Linked DNA regions of Homo sapiens. The protein of the gene in region 1 purifies or fractionates together with the protein of each later gene. This does not show direct contact. Each region holds a gene or a part of one and is shown on either strand. Other genes may lie near its edges.

Evidence for each region.
Region 2: the proteins of CCDC110 (region 1) and TGFBRAP1 purify together in Homo sapiens (affinity purification with mass spectrometry; one large-scale study listed by BioGRID and IntAct). This does not show direct contact.

Annotation. Positions count from the first base shown.
Region 1 is NC_000004.12:185,454,669-185,458,494, forward strand, and holds part of CCDC110 (coiled-coil domain-containing protein 110), read right to left. Parts: coding exon 3,458-3,826; intron 3,148-3,457; coding exon of another isoform or gene 3,098-3,147; exon of another isoform or gene 3,074-3,097; intron 2,662-3,073; coding exon of another isoform or gene 2,528-2,661; exon of another isoform or gene 1,733-2,527; coding exon of another isoform or gene 1,668-1,732; exon of another isoform or gene 1,651-1,667; intron 1-1,650.
Region 2 is NC_000002.12:105,323,097-105,326,922, reverse strand, and holds part of TGFBRAP1 (transforming growth factor-beta receptor-associated protein 1), read left to right. Parts: intron 1-3,826. UniProt on the Homo sapiens protein: Plays a role in the TGF-beta/activin signaling pathway. It associates with inactive heteromeric TGF-beta and activin receptor complexes, mainly through the type II receptor, and is released upon activation of signaling.

The DNA.
Region 1 (3,826 bases):
AGGCCACTGCACTCCAGCCTGGGCCACAGAGCAAGACTCCATCTCAAAAAAATAAAAAAGAAAGAAAGTGACCTAAAATGTCATCTTGTCTAAGCTTTGCTGTTGTTGTTAACAGATGGGGTCTCATTCTGTCACCCAGGCTGGAGTGCAGTGGCACAATTATAGCTCACTGCAGCCTCAAACTCCTGGGGTCAAGCGATCCTCCTACCTCAGCCTCCTGAGTAGCTGGGACTACAGGTATGTACCACCCCACCCAGCTAATTTTGTCTAAACTTCTTGATACTTAAAACTCTTTATAATGTTCGTACAAGGTGAATGCCCAGCCTCTGCCTAATATTCTAGTGTAATGGCAGCCTGTTCATTCATCATTCACTTAACAGATGTTGAGTGTCTGCTATATTCCAGGCATGGTTCTGGACACTGGGATTCAGCAGTAAACAAAATAGACAAAGGTAGGTTAAAAGTAAAAGGATGCACCTAACTTTTTAGTTATATTGTTTGTTTTATATTGTCAATGTTTTTTTAACACTAACACTCTATTTTGTAACCATAATTCAAACAGTTCTTTAATCTTAATTTTGTATTTAAATGGATATAGTGCTCACCATTAGTTATTTTCTTAATACTTTAGTTCTTTGATTTATATTTGATTTTCAGGATTTAGTAATCCATTTTCATGGTATATATTTATTATTTAACTATTCAGAGTTTCTCCTACTGATTCATCATTACAAAATAAATATAAAAGGATGCAAAAAGATATACTATGCAAATACCAATCTAAAGACAACTAGAGGGGCTATATCAATATCAGAGACTTTAGAACAAGGAATACCCCTAGGGATAATGAAGGTTATTTCATAATAATAAAGGTATCAGTTTACCAACTGGACATAATAGTGCTAAATGTGTATGCATACATAAAAGAGCTTTGGCCAGGCGCGGTGGCTTATGCCTGTAATCCCAGCACTTTGGGAGGCCGAGGCAGGTGGATCACCTGAGGTCAGGAGTTTGACTGAGTCTGGCCAACATGGTGAAACCCCGTCTTTACTAAAAATACAAAAATTAGCCGGGCATGGTAGTAGGCGCCTGTAATCTCAGCTACTCGGGAGGCTGAGGCAGGAGAATTGCTGGAACCCAGGAGGTGGAGGTTGCAGTGAGCTGAGATTGTTCCATTGCACTCCAGCCCGGGCTGACAACAGTGAGACTCCATCTCAAAAAAAAAATATTAATAATAAAAATTAAAAGAGCTTTAAAACACACTAAACAAATTTATAGAATGAACAAATCAACTTCTCTGTTCCTCTATCAGTAACTGTTAGAACAAGCAGACACAAGATCAGTACAGATATAGATTTGCTCAAACCTGTCAACCACGTTTACTCAGTTGACATTTATAGAACACTCCAGTTCACCTGAAACATCAACCAAGACAGACCTTATTCTGGGCAATAAAACAAGTCTCAATAAATTAAAAAAGATTATGTTCTCTGATCAAAACAGAATTAAATTAGAAATCAATAAAAGAAAAATAACTGAAAATCTCCAAACATTTAGAAATCAAGCAACTCACTTCCAATCCATTGGGTCAAAGAATAAATCACAAGTGAAAAAGAAAGTATTTTGAACTGAATGAAAATGAAAACATACCAGACTCTGTGATGCTATTAATGCAGGTACGAAACTAGGGAAGGAGCCAAGTAGCACCAGACGACCCAAAGGAATGAAATTACTAAATAGGAACAGAAATCAATGGAAGAAAAAAACAAAGCAGCAAGAAAAATCAATGAAATAATAAGCTGATTTTTTGAAAAGAAAAATAAAATTGGTAAAACTCTAGCAAGAATAATAAAGAAAAAAGAATCCCCAAATTACCAATGTCAGAAATTAAAGAGGGGACATCGCTACAAGTCCTTTGAACGTTAAAATGCTAATAAGGAATATTATGAACAACTTTGTGACAATACATTTGAGAACTTACATGAAATGTACAAATTCCTCAGAACATACAAAATTGTCAACTCTAACTCAAGAAATAGAAAATCTGAGTAGTTCTATATTAATAGAAATCATTTAGCAATGTAAAACCTTCCCATTTAGAAAAATCCAGGCCCTCTGGTGAATATTTACATATTATATATTTTACAAATATGTATGAGTATTACATATTTAAATATTTAAGGAAGGAATAATATTAATAATACCAATCCTACACAAATTCAGAAAATAGAGGAGGGGAAACACTTCCCAACAGGATTTTCCTGATGCCAAAGCCAGACAAAGACATTACAAGAAAATAATACAGACCAACATCCTTCTGAATACAGAAGCAGAAATCCTTAACAAAATATTACCAAATTGAATCCAGGAATGTATATTAAAAGAATAATACAACATCACCCAGTGGAGTTTATCCCAGGAATTCAAGGTTAGTGTTTCAAAATTAACATAATTTACCATATTAACAGATTAAAGGAGAAAAACCAGGATCACCTCCAATAAATGTAGAAAAAGCTTTGGACAGAATTCAACAAGGAATATTTGAATAGCAGTCTTGGAAGACAGAGTGTCTCTGGAGCACAGAACAGGTGTGCTTGCAACCTTGGAAGCTAGAGATTGTGTTTCCTCTGGAGCCAGGGCAGGCATGTGTATTGTTTCCACCTACAGGAAAGGGCAGGCATCTTACTATCCGTTATAATACTCGGGTTTCTAAGCTCACTCTCTCCTGTAATGCAATCCACTGTGTGATCCTCTTTACACTGCCTGTAGAAACTGGGGCTTGGACAACCAATGCAAACATGCTGATTCCCTGGCTCCTGCTATTGTAACAAACTCTCCTTAATCTCTCGCTCAGGAGTCTTGTGACTTCCACTAGAACCCACAAAACTGTGGCAGGCTAAAATATGAGCTTACTAGTTGGGTAAAATCTCAGATTCGCCACCGTTCTTGACAGTATAAAATATATACTTAATTCCAATTTCTAATTTTAAAAACTAGTCTAATCAATTACCAGGTTAATGTAATCACATAATTTAAAATTATTTTGTGGGGGGAAAAAGTACTTGGACAAAGGTTTTGAAACATTGATTTTAGCAGTTTATTTATATATCTTGGATGGAAGCAAATGATACAGTTTACTTGGAATTCCTAGGGAAAAAAAAAAGAATTCTTTTAAGGTGGGAGTGCTACTTATACTTTAAAATAATAATTAACTCCCTCTTGCTCACTGCCAAACTTGGTTTGTACACATACAATGCACATAATATAAACAAAATAATATATATTTTATCTAGAAAAAATTCCTAAATAATTTCACTGTATAATAAATTGGATACAAATTTTACAAAACAAAATTGTATTCATTTTAAAGTTTCCTCCTTATTTCTGTACTCTGTAGTGCCCAATAGGCTAAAAGAATCTTAAACACATCTCTACTAATCTACCAGGACTTGCGTACCTTTCAAATCCGAAGCCAAAGGCCTACTCTGAGGACTAGAAGTATCTTCGTGAGTATAGTTGTCAAAATGGAATTTCTCTCTTCTTGAAATGTAAGTTGTTTTTGAAGGGTCATTATGCTGATTACAAATTTTATCACTTAAACTTAAATATTCTCGTTGAAGATGCCGCATCTCAAATTCCAAGGTATCCCTTTCATTTTCTATGCTTCTTACGTAATTTTCTAAAAGTATTTTGTCTTCAGTAAGTCTACTGATGCTGTTTTCAAATTTTATATTTTCTTGACTATGTTTCTTTAGTTCTTCTTTTAGAATCTGATTATCTGTTTTGGTTTCCATTACCATTTTTGATAACATTTCACATTCCTTGC
Region 2 (3,826 bases), on another chromosome or scaffold:
AATGACTTTAAGTGCCTCATGAAAAGTGAATTATGAAATCTTGCAGATGATTTGAAATCAAGATCTTTTCTTGATAGTCAAGTAACTGCTGTTGAAAAAGTTAAAGATTTAAGGAAAAAATCACATATTTAAAGATGACAACTGACTGGATATTATGGACTATCAAGTCCTGTAGGTACTCAATAATTTTTTTTTTCTTTTTTTGAGACAGGGTCTCACCCTGTCACCCAGGCTACAGTACAGTGTCGTGTTCTCGGCTCACTGCAACCTCCATCTTCCAGGCTCAAGTGATCCTTCCACTTTAGCCTCCCAAGTAGTTGGGGCTATAGGCACATGCCACCATGCCCGGCTAATTTTTGTATTCTTCTATAGAGACAGAGTTTCACCATGTTGCCCAGGTTGGTTTTGAACTCCTAAGCTCAAGCAATCCATCTGCCTCGGCCTCCCGAAGTGCTGGGATTATAGGCATGAGCCACTGCTCCTGGCCAGTACTCGATAATTTTTTGTGGCTGTTTGAAGGTTCAGTATTGAGGAAGATGTTATGAAGTAAATGCCATATTTCTATTCTGCTCTTCTTCTACCTCCCACTTCTCTTCCTAAACCCTTTTAATTCTAACTGCTGATGGTACTCTTATAGGATGTATATTATATATATGTACATACACACACACATACACCCTTATGCATATGTATGTATACACACACCATATATAGTATGTGTATATATGTGTGTGTATATAAATATATGTTTATATGTATTTAAATAATTTTGATTAGTATTGCCCAGTAAAAAGGATACCAACTATGAATAGTTACATATATTAAATATACATCATGATAATATTAAGATGACAAGTTAGATATTAGACCTTAACTGTCTTTTTTTAATCCTCTTTTTTTAGATACTCTTGCAGATTATCAGAGCAGGTTCATTGCACTATAACTAATCTTGCTGTCTCTGTTGCATGAGTGCAAAAGATAACATAAAATGGTTGTCAAGCAGTATCTTCATTTTCAAAGGGGGGAAAAGTTGACTTTTGTACAAGCCAGTAAATTTATTGTTGATTCCTGACAAATTTCAAGATTGAGTCATTCAACAGATGGCTGTGGGACTTAGAGAAGAACACGGGACCAGCATGGGGTGCAGCTCAGGAAAAGCAGTTGCTGTCACATAAATGTGTATCCTGTTTTGGTAGATTACTATGTTAGTAGAGAACTGTGTCAACATACTATTCTGTGTCTGAATTTCAGCAAGCAGATAGAGCCACAGGATTCCTCTTCTAGACTCACGGTGGGGAAGCAATAGCAAAGACTCCTCAGGAACTGCAGCAGCATGCCACTCTAAGTACCATAGTGGCCTCCTGCTGAGAGTTGTTGCTTTGTTCAGAACTGAATTCTAGGAGAGGATCTGAAATCATACTTGTTCCCCTCAATCAATAAGAATATGGCCTTGGAGTCACGAACAAAAACTAGGGTCAAAGCCCTGTTTCATCACCTTGTAGCCAGGTAACCTTGAGCAAGCCACCTAAGATCTCTGTATCTCCATAATAATGTCCACCTCTCAGCGTCAAGGTAAGAACGAAAGGATAATGCTATATCGAGTGTGCAGTATCCCACCAAACCCAGTTTTGGGGCTCTCCTGAGGGGGCAGTCAGGGTGTCAGCCAGGGCTGCAGCCTATGGGTGCCATCCATCATCCAGGCTTGGGGCAGCATTGGCCTTGGGAGCCAGTGTGGCATCTGATTAAGGATGTGTGCTTTGGAGCTGACTACCTGGGTTGGAATCCCAGCTCTCTACTTACCAGCATGACTCTTCCACCTTTCAAGACCTCCATTCCCTTCCTCTTCATCCAGAAGTAGCTGGAGAATGGTATAGGAGAAGCACACAGCCCAGTCCAAATTTCTGTTTTATAGAGAACACAGGCCCAGACAAAGCCTCTTAGTGAGTTGCCTAAGATCATCAGGAAGTGACCAAGCAACAAGCAGAGCTCAGGATTCCCAGATTAATGTCGGGAATGTCTGCTATGCAGCGTGCCCACATTTACCACAGTTCACTGCCGGGGTGGCCCAGTTTCGCTCTGGGGCCTTGATCCTTATTACTGAGGGGCTGTGCTCCTTCCCAGCCTGAGTGTCCACCCTCAGAGTCCCCCACTTAACTGCTTCTCCCAAAGCTCATGGTATATCCAATTCTGAACACAGCAGGAGTCAGCTCACATTCACCCCAACCCAATCTCAGCCCCTCTGTCAGGGGAAAGACTCCAAATGAGTAAAACTCCCAAACTCTCCTCTGAAATGCATTTTCAGAAGGAAAAAAAAACTTTTAACTTATGGGTATTATTCATGCTTGTAATTTTAAGCGAGGACACTTGGCTGGAGAAAAATCACCTCTAAAAGTGGCTCAATAAAAAAGGCTCCAGTAGCCCAGAGTGTGCTAGCGCAGTCCTGGGCTGGACTGATGGGTATTGGTTCATGCTTGTCCTTTTTAGTCACTGACACAGTCTTATGACTGTTTCCTTTCCTGCTAGAAAAGGAGATTCCCAGGTTTCTTTTCTATTTCTTGATCACTCTAAGGTGAGATAATTACCCAATATACCACGATTACATTTTCATTTTAAAATTTGAAGTAATTTTGGACTTACCTAAGAGTTGCAAAATAGTGCAGAATTCATGAATACACTTTACCCAGCTTCCTCTTTTGTTAACGTCTTGTATGGCTGTAGTATAATGATCAAAATGAATCAATTAGTGCTAGTATACCACTATAAAGTGCACACAGTATTTGAATTTCACCCGTTTTTCTGCTTAATGTCTTTTTTCTGTTCCAGGATCCTTTTTCTGATCCAGTTTCCCCACTTTGCATTTAATTGTCACTTATTCTTGGCTTCTAATCTGTGACAGTTCCTCAGCCTTTCCTCTTTTTTCGTGACCTTAACACACTTGAAAGGGTGTGAGAGATTTTGTAGACCATCCCTCAGTTTGGATTTATCTAAACTCCTCCAATTCCCATGGGGGATTCGAGATGCTCTCTGACAATCACCTTCACAATCTATAGAAACAACACATTTAAGAAAACCACATCAGTATCTCAAGACTTTAAGTCAACCCGTAAACCTACCAAAATGCATTTTTCAGATGGGACTTCAGTGATTGTCAGAGAGCCTATCAAACCCCCCATGGGAATTGGAGGTGTTTGGCAGTTTGTTTTCTAGTAGGGACTTTTGTTGACATCTCATTTCACTCATTTAGCACAAACACTGCATCTGAAGGTAGCTTGCAGTGGGAGAATATTGCTGGCAAGGTTTGCCTTTTCTCACCCAATATAGAATTTTGAGGCTGTGATTTGGCTCTTCATTCAGTCAGGAATGCAGCATGGGAAATAGAGGTTTTCAAGCCTTCACTCCCTGCTGCCTGCAAAAAAAAGTGTCCAGTCATACCTGCCTGTCCTGCTCAATACCCACGATATGATGGTCAGGAGAGGAAGAATGGGCATGAGGTTGGTGCCTGTGCCAAAGGGAGATAGGAAGGTCTGAGTTTGCACTGAGTCCCAAGGGGTCGCAGAGATAGAGGCTGAGCAGCAGGTCCCTTGGCAGCTGCCCACGCTGTTTCTGTTTCAGGAAGCTGACAAAGCCAGAGGTGGGTGTCAGCACATCCCCCCGCCCCCTCTACTGAAGTCACCACCTGACTTTTCCAGGCTCTCCCTCCTCATCCAGGCGTCACAAGAGCCACCATCACTGGGACCACAAGAAAACTGGCCTCCAATGCATGCTTCTGAGTCTTTCTCTCTTAAACTTCTCAGGACCAGCCTCAAAAAACATGGGGAATAAGGCA